Regions from separate parts of the Homo sapiens genome. Here region 1 is linked to region 2. The links come from fine-mapping of genetic effects on gene expression. A gene starts in region 2. The other region holds a variant in brackets. All regions are shown on one strand. Distances are from middle to middle. Region 1 overlaps CTNND1 (catenin delta 1). Region 2 holds the start of UBE2L6 (ubiquitin conjugating enzyme E2 L6).

The links. PIP is the estimated chance that this variant, and not a neighbour inherited with it, causes the effect.
Region 1: its variant is fine-mapped to the expression of UBE2L6 in lung (TOPMed, PIP 0.99).

What each region holds. Positions count from the first base shown.
Region 1 is chr11:57,788,631-57,794,006 of GRCh38, reverse strand. CTNND1 (catenin delta 1) reads right to left here. Exons shown (of 21, transcript NM_001085458.2): 2 at 4,852-4,970; 3 at 2,334-2,622. The coding sequence starts at 2,528. It overlaps TMX2-CTNND1 (TMX2-CTNND1 readthrough (NMD candidate)), which reads right to left. Exons shown (of 21, transcript NR_037646.1): 3 at 4,852-4,970; 4 at 2,334-2,622. Among named protein-coding and RNA genes, the nearest start is that of CTNND1, 30 kb to the right of the region's middle. RefSeq lists enhancers at 1,436-1,730, 5,285-5,376. The variant G/A (reference allele first, on the strand shown) is at 3,090.
Region 2 is chr11:57,565,406-57,570,781 of GRCh38, reverse strand. UBE2L6 (ubiquitin conjugating enzyme E2 L6) reads left to right here and starts at 3,110. Exons shown (of 4, transcript NM_004223.5): 1 at 3,110-3,197. The coding sequence starts at 3,171. RefSeq lists a silencer at 2,747-3,106 and an enhancer at 4,360-4,709.

The DNA.
Region 1 (5,376 bases), 220 kb before region 2:
AAACACAGCCCACAAGAAGACAATTCATTTTGTGGCCTTCTTTTGCTCTATCAAATACAAACGATCTTTTTTTCAAACAGGAAAAGGGCTTTCAAGAAGATATGTGTGGCCTGGAGTCCTTGTGTCAGTACTCATAAAAGAACCATTCACTCTTTAGTCTTAGCACTTTCCTCAAAATTGAAAATCAGGCCTGGAACTCTGGCAGACAGGGTCTCTGGAACATAAGAACGTAAACTCCACGAGGGCAGAGGGTTTTTTGGGATAAGTTTAGTTTAGTCTAGTGCCTTGAACAGTGCCTGGCACATAACAGGTGCTCAAAAACTATTTGCTGAATAAACAGCACAGACCTAGATAATTTCCCTTACATGCAACCTTTTTGGAAAGCCATAAAAATGTAAGGAAAGTTGGAAGGGCTAAGTTGGGGGGTTTCCAAAGAGCTTTATAGTCTCATGAATCTTCATGCAGTACTACCACTGGAAACTCCCATTCCAGGCAGCTTTTTAAAGAAAGAAGCAAGATGGCTATCATGTCCTAATGTAAAAAACAGAAATTTAATTAAAGAAAAAAGCAAGAGATACGAGTCTCCCTTTCCAAGTACAAAAACAAGCACCCCAACTCCCCTCAAGAAAACAGAAGGCTCAATATCTTTACCAACAATTATTAGAGCCACAGAATACATTCCAAAATGTCATCCAGAAGTTGCTCTGTCTTAAGCAGCAGGAAATAATCTAATGACATTATACCACATAAAAATATATTTGCCTGCTCCTCTTCCAGTAGAATAGTGAGATCCAACCACCTTGGGAGACTCTTCCTCCACCCCACTCCCATTACATAGAGTGTAATGCTGCAGGGAGAGGAAGTTAAACATTACTTTCAGGAAGAAGGAAGGGTGTGGTTTTACTGCTAAGCAGAAGTTAAAAATAAGAGAGCAACCACATACTGAATCCTGGAATTCCCCATGACCTCCAAACCTGAGCAGTCCAGCTTTCTCCTTTCAATATAATTTCATCCCTAACTTTCTATTGTAGTTCCTGTAAAAATCCTAGGAACACTGCAAGCATGCTGCCTCCCTCAAATTCCTTGATCCTCCAACTGGAATTCTGTTCTCTCTCAACTGCAAGGCTCCTCAGTATGAGGGACTTTCTCTATCTTAAAAAAAAAAAAAAAAAAATCACTCAGCCGGGTGCAGTAGCTCACGCGTAATCCCAGTACTTTGGGAGGCCGAGGCAGGTGGATCACGAGGTCAAGAGATCGAGACCATCCTGGCCAACATGGTGAAACCCCATTTCTACTAAAACTACAAAAATTGGCTGGGTGTGGTGGCACACGCCTGTAGTCCCAGCTACTCAGGAGGCTGAGGCAGGAGAATTGCTTGAACCCGGGAGGCGAACGTTGCAGTGAGCCAAGATTGCACCACTGCACTCCTATTTAAATAAATAAATAAAAATTACTCAATGAAAAGGACTATCAGGGCATGAGTACTGTTCTGGTTCCCACTCAGAGATCTCTCGTAAGATGCAATCTATCAGGCAATGTCTACCACACACACACATGCGCGAGTGCGCGCGCACACACGCACACACACACAGAGGAAGACAGACAAAACCTCAGACAGATTACATCACAGCAAAGTCAGACTAGAAAAACCAGAGGAAACACAAGATACTTCTCATTTCTAACACCAACTCTCCCAAGTCACATCACAGAGTCAGCCAACCCAGAGACCACTGGCTCCTGTGGTTATTTGGGTTAAACAGCAGCATGATGCTCCCTCTCCAACTCTAACCAACAGAATTAACAATGACCCCTTCCTCCAACACATGATTTACACAGCCAACAAAAAGAGCACACAAGGACAATATGGAGCAGGAGTACACAATTTATGGATACTGCCACACCTGGGTACAGACTGTTCCCTCAGGGAGACTGAACTAGGGCTGAGAGCACAAGATGCCCAACCATTAAGTGGGCATTTACTTTCCTGATTTTTTGATACCAAGAAAAAAAAATCAGAAAAGAAAAGTAACTTGAGTACAGCTGCAAACTAAACTATCTACCATTACTAGAATTGTAGCCCACCCCAAAAAACCTACTCCAGCAAAACAGGAAGTCAGATGGATGCTTCTAGAGATAGTAACTGCACCCAGCTCAGTCCAGCAGCAATATTCCTTGTCTCTTATCAGCATTTAACACCCCTGGAAAAAAATCCCTGGAAGAACGGGCACTGGACAGCCCATCACCAAAAGGAGAGTAGCTTCCCAAAAAGGATCATAGCCTCTCTGTGACCATGCCAAAGTCCTACCTGCACGTCTGATGGAGAGAGGGGTTACCTGATGCCGGCGGGTGAGTGTGCCGTTGGCCATGAGTGGGTTGGCATCTTGTGGTGAGACCCGGACGCGTTCCAGCTGCGCCGAGACGTGGCGCCGTTCCTCCTCCAGCGCCCGGGTCAGCTTCTCAAACTGGGCCTCTTGTTCCTTCACAGAGGCCAAGATGCTGGCGGTCGACTCCACCTCTGAGTCGTCCATGAAGGTAAGGGGCGGAGCCGCCGCAGGGCAGGGTAAAAAGGAAGGTGAATCACAGAGGAAGGAGAAGGAGGGAGAGAGACCCCCTCACTTCACACTACCGGGAAAGGGTAAGAGAAAGGAGAGAAAAGGTCACAGGTCAGAGAAGACAGATGAATTATTAATCCCAGAGCCAAAGATGCCCTCTCGTGGTTTTACTGCAGTGCAGAAAGCAAGCCACCGCCAAGCCTGGGAGCCCATCACCAGTGTCTGTTCAAGCGGAATCCTTTGCCCACTAGCTTTCTTCAACATCCCACCAGAAATAACTATTGAAAGGAAAGGTGCAATTAAATCTAAGTCTCTACACTGTTAGGAGAGGGAGAATGTGGTGAGGTGCTGTAGTTATGAGATTGGATTATTTTTCCCTGAAAAAAATCTGCTGGTATCAACTCAATGAAATGTGTAACTCCAATGGTACAGACAAGCATTCACTATCCTGCAGGGACAAGCCACTTTTAGAGATAATAGGGCAATACAGATCTTACTTAACCTCTCCCACATCTAAACACTAAAACTGCTGAAGTG[G/A]CAGCAAATTAAAAAAAAAAAATTACTATGCTAAACTAAATGCCAATTAAGAAATGAAAAGGCCGGGCACTGTGGCTTACACCTGTAATCCCAGCACTTTGGGAGGCCGAAGCAGGCGGATCACGAGGTCAGAAGTTCGAGACCAGTCTGGCCAACATAGTGAAACCCTGTCTCTACTAAAAAAATACAAAAAAAGGCCGGGCGTGGTGGCGGGAGCCTGTAATTCCAGCTACTCGGGAGGCTGAGACAGGAGAATGGCGTGAACGCCGGAGGTGGAGCTTACAGTGAGCCAAGATCGCACTATTGCACTCCAGCCTAGGCGACAGTGCAAGACTCCGTCTCAAAAAAAAAAAAAAAAAAAAAAACACACACACAGACAAAATTAGCCGGGTGTGGTGGCGTACTCCTATAATCCCAGCAACTCGGGAGGCTGAGGCAGGAGAATAGCGGAGGTTGCAGTGAGCCAAGATCGCGCCATTGCACTCCAGCTGGGGCGACAATGCAAGACTCCGTCTCAAAAAAAAAAAAAAAAGAAAGAAAGAAATGAAAGTAGGTGGCTCACACCTGTAATCCCAGCACTTTACGAGGCCGAGGTGGGTGGATCACTTGAGGTCAGGTTCAGTTGGTCAAGACCAGCCTGGCCAACATGGGGAAACCTTATCTCTACTAAAAATACAAAAATTAGCCAGGCATGGTGGTAGGCACCTGTAATCCCAGCCGAGGCATGAGAATTGCGTGAACCCAGGAGACGGAGAGTGTAGTGAGCCGAGATGGCACCGCTGCACTCCAGGCTGGACAACAGAGTGAGACTCTGCCTCCAAAAATATAATAATACATTCATAAAAGGGCGTTTCTACTTTCCAAACTATACTACTATAGTTTGTTAAATATTATATTGATGGCAAAACGTGTTCCTTGACTAATGGAGACAACAGAGTAACAGAACCACAAAAAACTCTACATGTAAAAAAGCACTGTCTTCAGGAAACTTCACCTCCTTGGGAAGTAGGAAAAGGAGTATTAGCCTCAACCTCTGAAAGTGCACCTCACAGTAGTTCATATCCTAACCTCCACACGTCAATGGCTGGAAGTTCCCACATCTCTGTAATCCTGCAGAAACCTCTAACTCAAGCTTGTCCAACCCTTGGCCCGCGGGACGCATGCAGCCCAGGACAGCTTTGAATGCGGCCCAACACAAATTTGTAAACTTTCTTGAAACATTATGAGATTTTTTTTTTTGCAATTCTTTTTTAGCTCATTGGCTATCCTTAGCGTACATTATGTATGGCCCAACACAATTCTTCTTCCACTGTAGCCCAGGGAAGCCAAAAGATTGGACACTCTTGTTTTAAATAGACTATCTTTTTACCCTTTTATTTGTTCCAACTCAGGATAAATATCCAAGTATCTAGAGGGTCTATGTGTGCTATCTATACAATAAAAGATAGTTATATAAAAATGAAGAGTTCTCCATACCATTATATAAACAGGAGGTTTTACAGGCATTAGTGATACTCTGTTGGACTCAATGGGTTTTTTTCTCTCTTATAGCTATGAAAGACTTTATGCCAGTCCAAAATATACAATGTTGAAAGACAGGTTTTGAAATAAATATTCTCCCCAATTCCCACCCTCTCACCAACCCATAAAGAAAAAAGGTATTTAAAAAGATTTTTTTCTGCTATGACATGAAAGGAATAAAAATACATATTTCTTAAAAAGTAAGATTTTTCCTTCTTAATAAACATATTTCCATACACACCTGTTAAGAGAAGGTCGCAACTGATTGGTTTAACACAGAGAACAGCCCAGTCTAGATTCAAAAAATCATGGAAGAAGCATCCCAGCCACCACAGCAAGGAGGAAGCAGGAAGGAGAGAGCTGCAGAAATATTTGAAGGAAAAATGGGAATGAGAGGAAAATAAAATATACCCAATACATAAAAACAAGAAGAGCAAGGGGCAATATTAGGAATGAAAGGAAGTAATTTAAAATATGACTTGGAATTGCTTAATGTGACAAGTGCCCTTTAGACCTTGTTGTGTTCAGATACCTAGGCCTTGGATGTCATTTTCATTAAAACCTGGATTCTACTGTCAAGTGAGAGCTCCTCTATTTGTATTTCCATATATAACCAGGAACAGGTTATAATATGTATAAAAATCCATTTACCCTGTTTCCAGCAACCAAATTGGGGAAAAAGAAAAAAACTGCTGTTGGAATGCCCTTCCCCCTCCCTTCCCACCCCTAAGGCAGAAACCTCAAAGCCCAGTCCCAGCATGCCCAC
Region 2 (5,376 bases):
CAGGCACCTGACATCATTTTAATATTTATTATGTTATCATTATCATAACTGTCACTTATTGTCCACCATTCAAAGTTAAGTTCTTTGCAAATATCAACTCATTGTTTCTCACATCCACTGTTATGAGCTCCATTTAACAGATGAGGAAATGGAGGCACAGACAGGTTAAGTAATGTGCCCAAGGTTATTTAGCCAAAAATAGTGGAGCTGGGATTCAAACCTGATTGTTTATATCCTGGAATTACAATTTTCTTGTTTTGCTTTTTGAGACAGAGTTTCGCTCTTGTCGCCCAGGCTGGAGTGCAATGGCCCGGTCTCGGCTCACTGCAACCTCTGCCTCCCAGGTTCAAGTGATTCTCCTGCCTCAGCCTCCCCAGTAGCTGGGATTACAGGCGCACGCCATTACACCTGGCTAATTTTTGTGTTTTTAGTAGAGACGAGGTATCGCCATGTTAGCCAGGCTGGTCTCGAACTCCTGACCTCAGGTAATCCGCCTGCCTTGGCCTCCCAGAGTGCTGGGATTATAGGCATGAGCCACCATGCCAGGCCTCGGACTTAGAATTTTCTTTTCTTTTTTTCTTTGAGCGGAGTCTTGCTCTGTCCCCCAGGCTGGAGTGCAATGGCGTGATCTTGGCTCACTGCAACCTCTGCCTCCTGGGTTCAAGCGATTCTCCTGCCTCAGCCTCCTGACTAGCTGAGATTACAGGCACCCACCACCATGCCCGGCTAATTTTTGTATTTTTAGTAGAGACGAGGTTTCACCATATTGGTCAGGCTGGTCTCGAACTCCTGATCTCAGGTGATCCGCCTGCCTCGGCCTCCCAAAGTGCTGGGATTACACGCGTGAGCCACTGCGCCCGGCGACTTACAATATTCTAAGTTCCTCCACTTCCCTCAGCTTAGCCTCACAATGGTCCTGGCAAGCAGATAGGAGTTTCCGCCGACCACCCAAGGCCATAACTGCACATGGGGGCAGATGTGGAACTAGAACCCAGGTCTCCCTGGGGCTTGTTCTGACACACAAAGGTCTGCATTGTGAAAGGACATGAAAGGCACACCAGTGGGCTGCCCCACTGTGTGGGGACTTAGGACCCAGCTATATCCATGACTGTTAATTCACCTCGGGATGCAGCGTTCCTGTAAGAAAAGAAAAGGAGAGCTACGATACGTGGACAGAGGCTTTTGCTCCAGTTTCCATAGACACTGCCCCGTTTGCTCATGCTGTTCCCTCTTGTTAGAACATCTTCATCCCACGCTCTTACTTCTCGCTGACTCATCATGTTTCACAATACACTTGGATTTTTCTCTCTTCCGGGAAACCTCTGCCCCTCCCTGAAGAGGGATAAAGTGACCCTCCTCATACTCCCAGAGTACCAGGTGATTCTCTATAGCATTATCATTAAAAATCAGGGGCTGCATTCTCTCCCTCTGTCCCAGTAGTCTGGGAACTAACTCCTCAGGAGCAGGGACTCCCCTTTCTCATCCTGGTGTTTCCTATTGGCAATGCCTGCCACTCAGTAGTAGGCGCTTGTTGACTGAGACTATTGATCACAGGCAGGTTCGAATGTCTTTGTTCCCTCATCTCTACCCCTGTTAAGGGATTACGGAGTGTCCTATTCATTTCGGGCATATAGAAAATGCTGTTAAAGTTCATTGAATTGAATGAAACAATTAATCGTTCTGCAAAATCTGAGCAGAGAAGTCATTTGGTTTCAAAATACTTGGATAAAAACATTACGGTGGCTCACGCCTGTAATTCCAACACTTTGGGAGGCCGAGGCGGGTGGATTACTTGAAACCAGGAGCTCGAGACCCTGACTCTACTAAAAATACAAAAATGAGCCGGTCGTGGTGGCGCGCGCCTGTAAATCTCAGCTACTCAGGAGGCTGAGGCACGAGAACAGCTTGAACCGGGAGGCGGAGGTTGCAGTGAGCCGATATCGCCACTGAACTCCAGTCAGGGCGACAGTGAAACTCTGTCAGAAAAACAAGAAACAAAAAAACTGTGAGGTACTGAGATCACAAACTGGTGCTCAAAATATACTGATTTCCTTTCTCGTCTGGACTAAACGGGGGTAGGGAAGGGTGAGAAGGAGGGGATCGGCCCTCCCAACAAGTCTCATCTTCCCCAGATGCTGCTTGGTGCTCAGGGGCTGCAAGTACTCTGTCCTTGCACAGAGGGTTGGGGACTCCAGCTGTGCATGGGGGCACACATTAGGCCCACAGCTTGTAATGGACCAGTAGTAAAGTAAGGGAGGGGAAGCAGACTCTCTCTTGGAAAGGAGGCTCCTGAGTCCTTCTTGGGGCTTCCCCCACCAACTGTTTCCCAAACCAGCATACAGTAGGCACTTAGTAAATACTAAACCTAGTAAAGGACTGAATGATGGTAGACCGAACCCCCAAAGCAAAAGAGAAAGGGTCCAACAGCGCCTCCTTGCGGTGCTCTGCCCCAAGCCACGGGGAGAAACGTTGCAGCCCGCGCCGAACGCCGGGCAGCACAAAGGATCCCCGACTGCCGGGGAGCGGTGCTCGGAGGGCACAGGTCTACGCCATCCCCCACGCAGTTTCGGAGATGGAGCGCTGGGCCCATGGAGGGAAGGCGGCAGGCTCGGCGGCTCCGGCAGCTTGCTGGGGCAGGGGCTCAAGGCGGCAGTCCGATAGTGGAGGCCGCTGAGAACTGTCACGGAGCTGCGTCTGTACAGCGAGCATCCCTTATTTATTCAGGGCGAGTGTGTATTTGGGGCGGCGTGCAGGGGGCTGACAAAGACCGGAGAGCTCCCGGTGCGGCCGCCGGCGGAGCGAAGACTGGAACCCGTATGAGCGCCCCCCAGCGCCCCTGAGCGCTCGCCGCCGGTGCACGGCGCACCCCGCGGGAGGCAGGGATCAGCAAAGCCGTGCGCCCCGAGGCCCGCCCCCGTCTCCGCACAAAGACCGTGAGTCCCGGGTCCGAGCCTTCCGCGCGGGGATCGGGCGGTTGTCCGGCGGGTCGTCCTTCGACGGCCTCCTGGCCTCGCCGGAGCGGGTGCGGGGAGGCCCACGCAGCGACGGCTGGAGGAGGGGTGGGCGGGGCTGCCGGGGGTGGGGTCCCCGGGGCGGGGCGGGGCGCGCTGTGTCGCGGGTCGGAGCTCGGTCCTGCTGGAGGCCACGGGTGCCACACACTCGGTCCCGACATGATGGCGAGCATGCGAGTGGTGAAGGTAACCGCGTATAGGATGACCCCTTTCTCTTGGCTCCCCTCGCCTCCCGCATTCCCTCCTCCCTCCATCCCCTCCGCGGCTCTCCGAGCACATTTATTTATTTGTCTGGGCACCAGGGCTGGCTGAATCCCTGTCCTCCCCGCCCTCTACTCAGAGGAGGACTGGCCTGCAAGAGTGGCCAGAGCTGGGGTTTTGGGGGTTTGGAGGCCTCTGCTTGAGCCGTTCGCGTGGTGAAGATGAGCCGGCTCCCCCAAAACTGGTTTCAATTTCGCTTTTCCTGCCTGAAACTTGTGATAACAACTGGGTGCATCTCCAGTGCAGGAAAAGTCCTTGGCATCTTGGTGCCAGGCATTCTGCTACTGCTGGTGGTGGGTTATGAACACAGATGACCAGGATGAAGTCCTTGCCTTGGAATAAGCCCATAGCCCATCCCATAATTTGATGCCTGTATTACTAGAGTCCTGAGAAACACGGAATGCTGATTAGAATTTGGGACAAAGTTCCCTGAGTATTCTCTGGAGGAAAAGATGCGGAGGTGGACCTGGAAGGCCTCCTGGAGTAGGTGGCTTGCGTTCGTGAGTTCTACAAGTGTTGAATGCCTACATGTGCTGGCCCTGTTCTAGGAGGGGGGGGGGGGCGGGCAGAGATGAACACAAATCCGGCCCTTGTTGAATTTTGTTCCTATCAGGGACACAATTTGAAATAAGATCTGGAAGGATGGGGAGGGGGCAGTTTCCTCCAGAAGGTGGGAAAACCCAGGGTGTTTGGAGATGGATTAGGGAGGAAGGTGATCCTGGTGAAGTGAGTCTGGCACCCCAAGTCTTTCAGAAGTGCCCCTTCCAGTCTGCAGGGTGGAGGGGCAGGCTCTAGGAAGAGGGTGCCTGCTACCCTCAGCCTCTGAGAAGAAAATGGCCTCAGACTGGGATGCCCAGAGCAGGCTTGGCCTAGATACTAAATCTGGAGGTTGGCAGCAAAATGAGGCAGAGGGTCTTTCCAGCCAAGTGGAAGAGAGATGGGAGCCAGAATTTATTGCATTGGAACCATTACATGCCAAACGGTTTACATGGTTATTTCATCTAATTCGCACAGCAGTTCTGTGAGATAAGTAATATATACCCGCATTTTACAAATGAGGAAATTGAGGCACAGAGGAAATAACTTGCTTGTCCAGAGTCTTTCAGTAAGGAGCAATGGGACTGGAATATGAAACCAGGTCCACAGGCCTCCAGCCTGCAGGCTCTCTTAATGGCCTTTCTACTTTCATTTTCTGTTCCTCTGAGTCAGGTGATTTCCTAGTAGGCAGTAGGAAAGAACTGTGTGTTTTAGGTTGGGTTTCAACTTCCTCAGGCTTTGGGAAAGTTCTGGCAGAACTCATCCTAAACAGATAAAGTTCAAGTGTCTTTATCTTTCCAAGACCTGGAAAATGTCTATTCCAGATCTTCTCCGGTCAGCCCTGGGCTTTGTTCTTGCCAAAGAGTCACAGATGATAGAGAAACTCTTACAAGTGCAGATGCTTCTAGTTTGGGGTAAAGATAAATGAAGGGCCATTGACCCTGGGTGGAAGGCACCAGAAGCAGCTTATTGGTTGAACAGAAATAGAACATAGGCTGAGGGATAGGAGGGGGGCATGGGATGTGTTTATATTATATGTTGGGGGTGGGGGTAAGGCAGAGAAAGTTCAAATGGTCCACAGTGTTAAAGGACCCCTCCCCACTTGTGGACTGGGTTTGGAGAGCTTCAGTTTCTCAACCTCATCACTACTGACATTTTGGGTCACATAACTGTTATGTATCCATTGTATGTTTTTAGATTTGAGGTTACTACAAGGTTTGTAAATAATATCTTATAACCTGTTATTTTAAACTGATGACAAGTTAACACTGATTACATAAACAAACAAGCAAAATGAAAACTAATGAAGGCCAGGCGTGGTGTCCCACTCCTGTAATATCAGCACTTTGGGAGGCTGAGGTTCGCGGACTGCTTGAGCCTAGGAGTTCGAGACCAGCCTGGGTAACACAGCCAAACCCCATCTCTACAAAAAGTACCAAAATTAGCCGGGCATGGTAGCACACTGCTGTAGTCCTAGCTACTTGGGAGGCTGAGGTAGCAAGATCACCTGAGCCCAGGAGGTTGAGGCTGCAGTGAGCTGTGATTGTGCCACTGGACTCCAATCTGG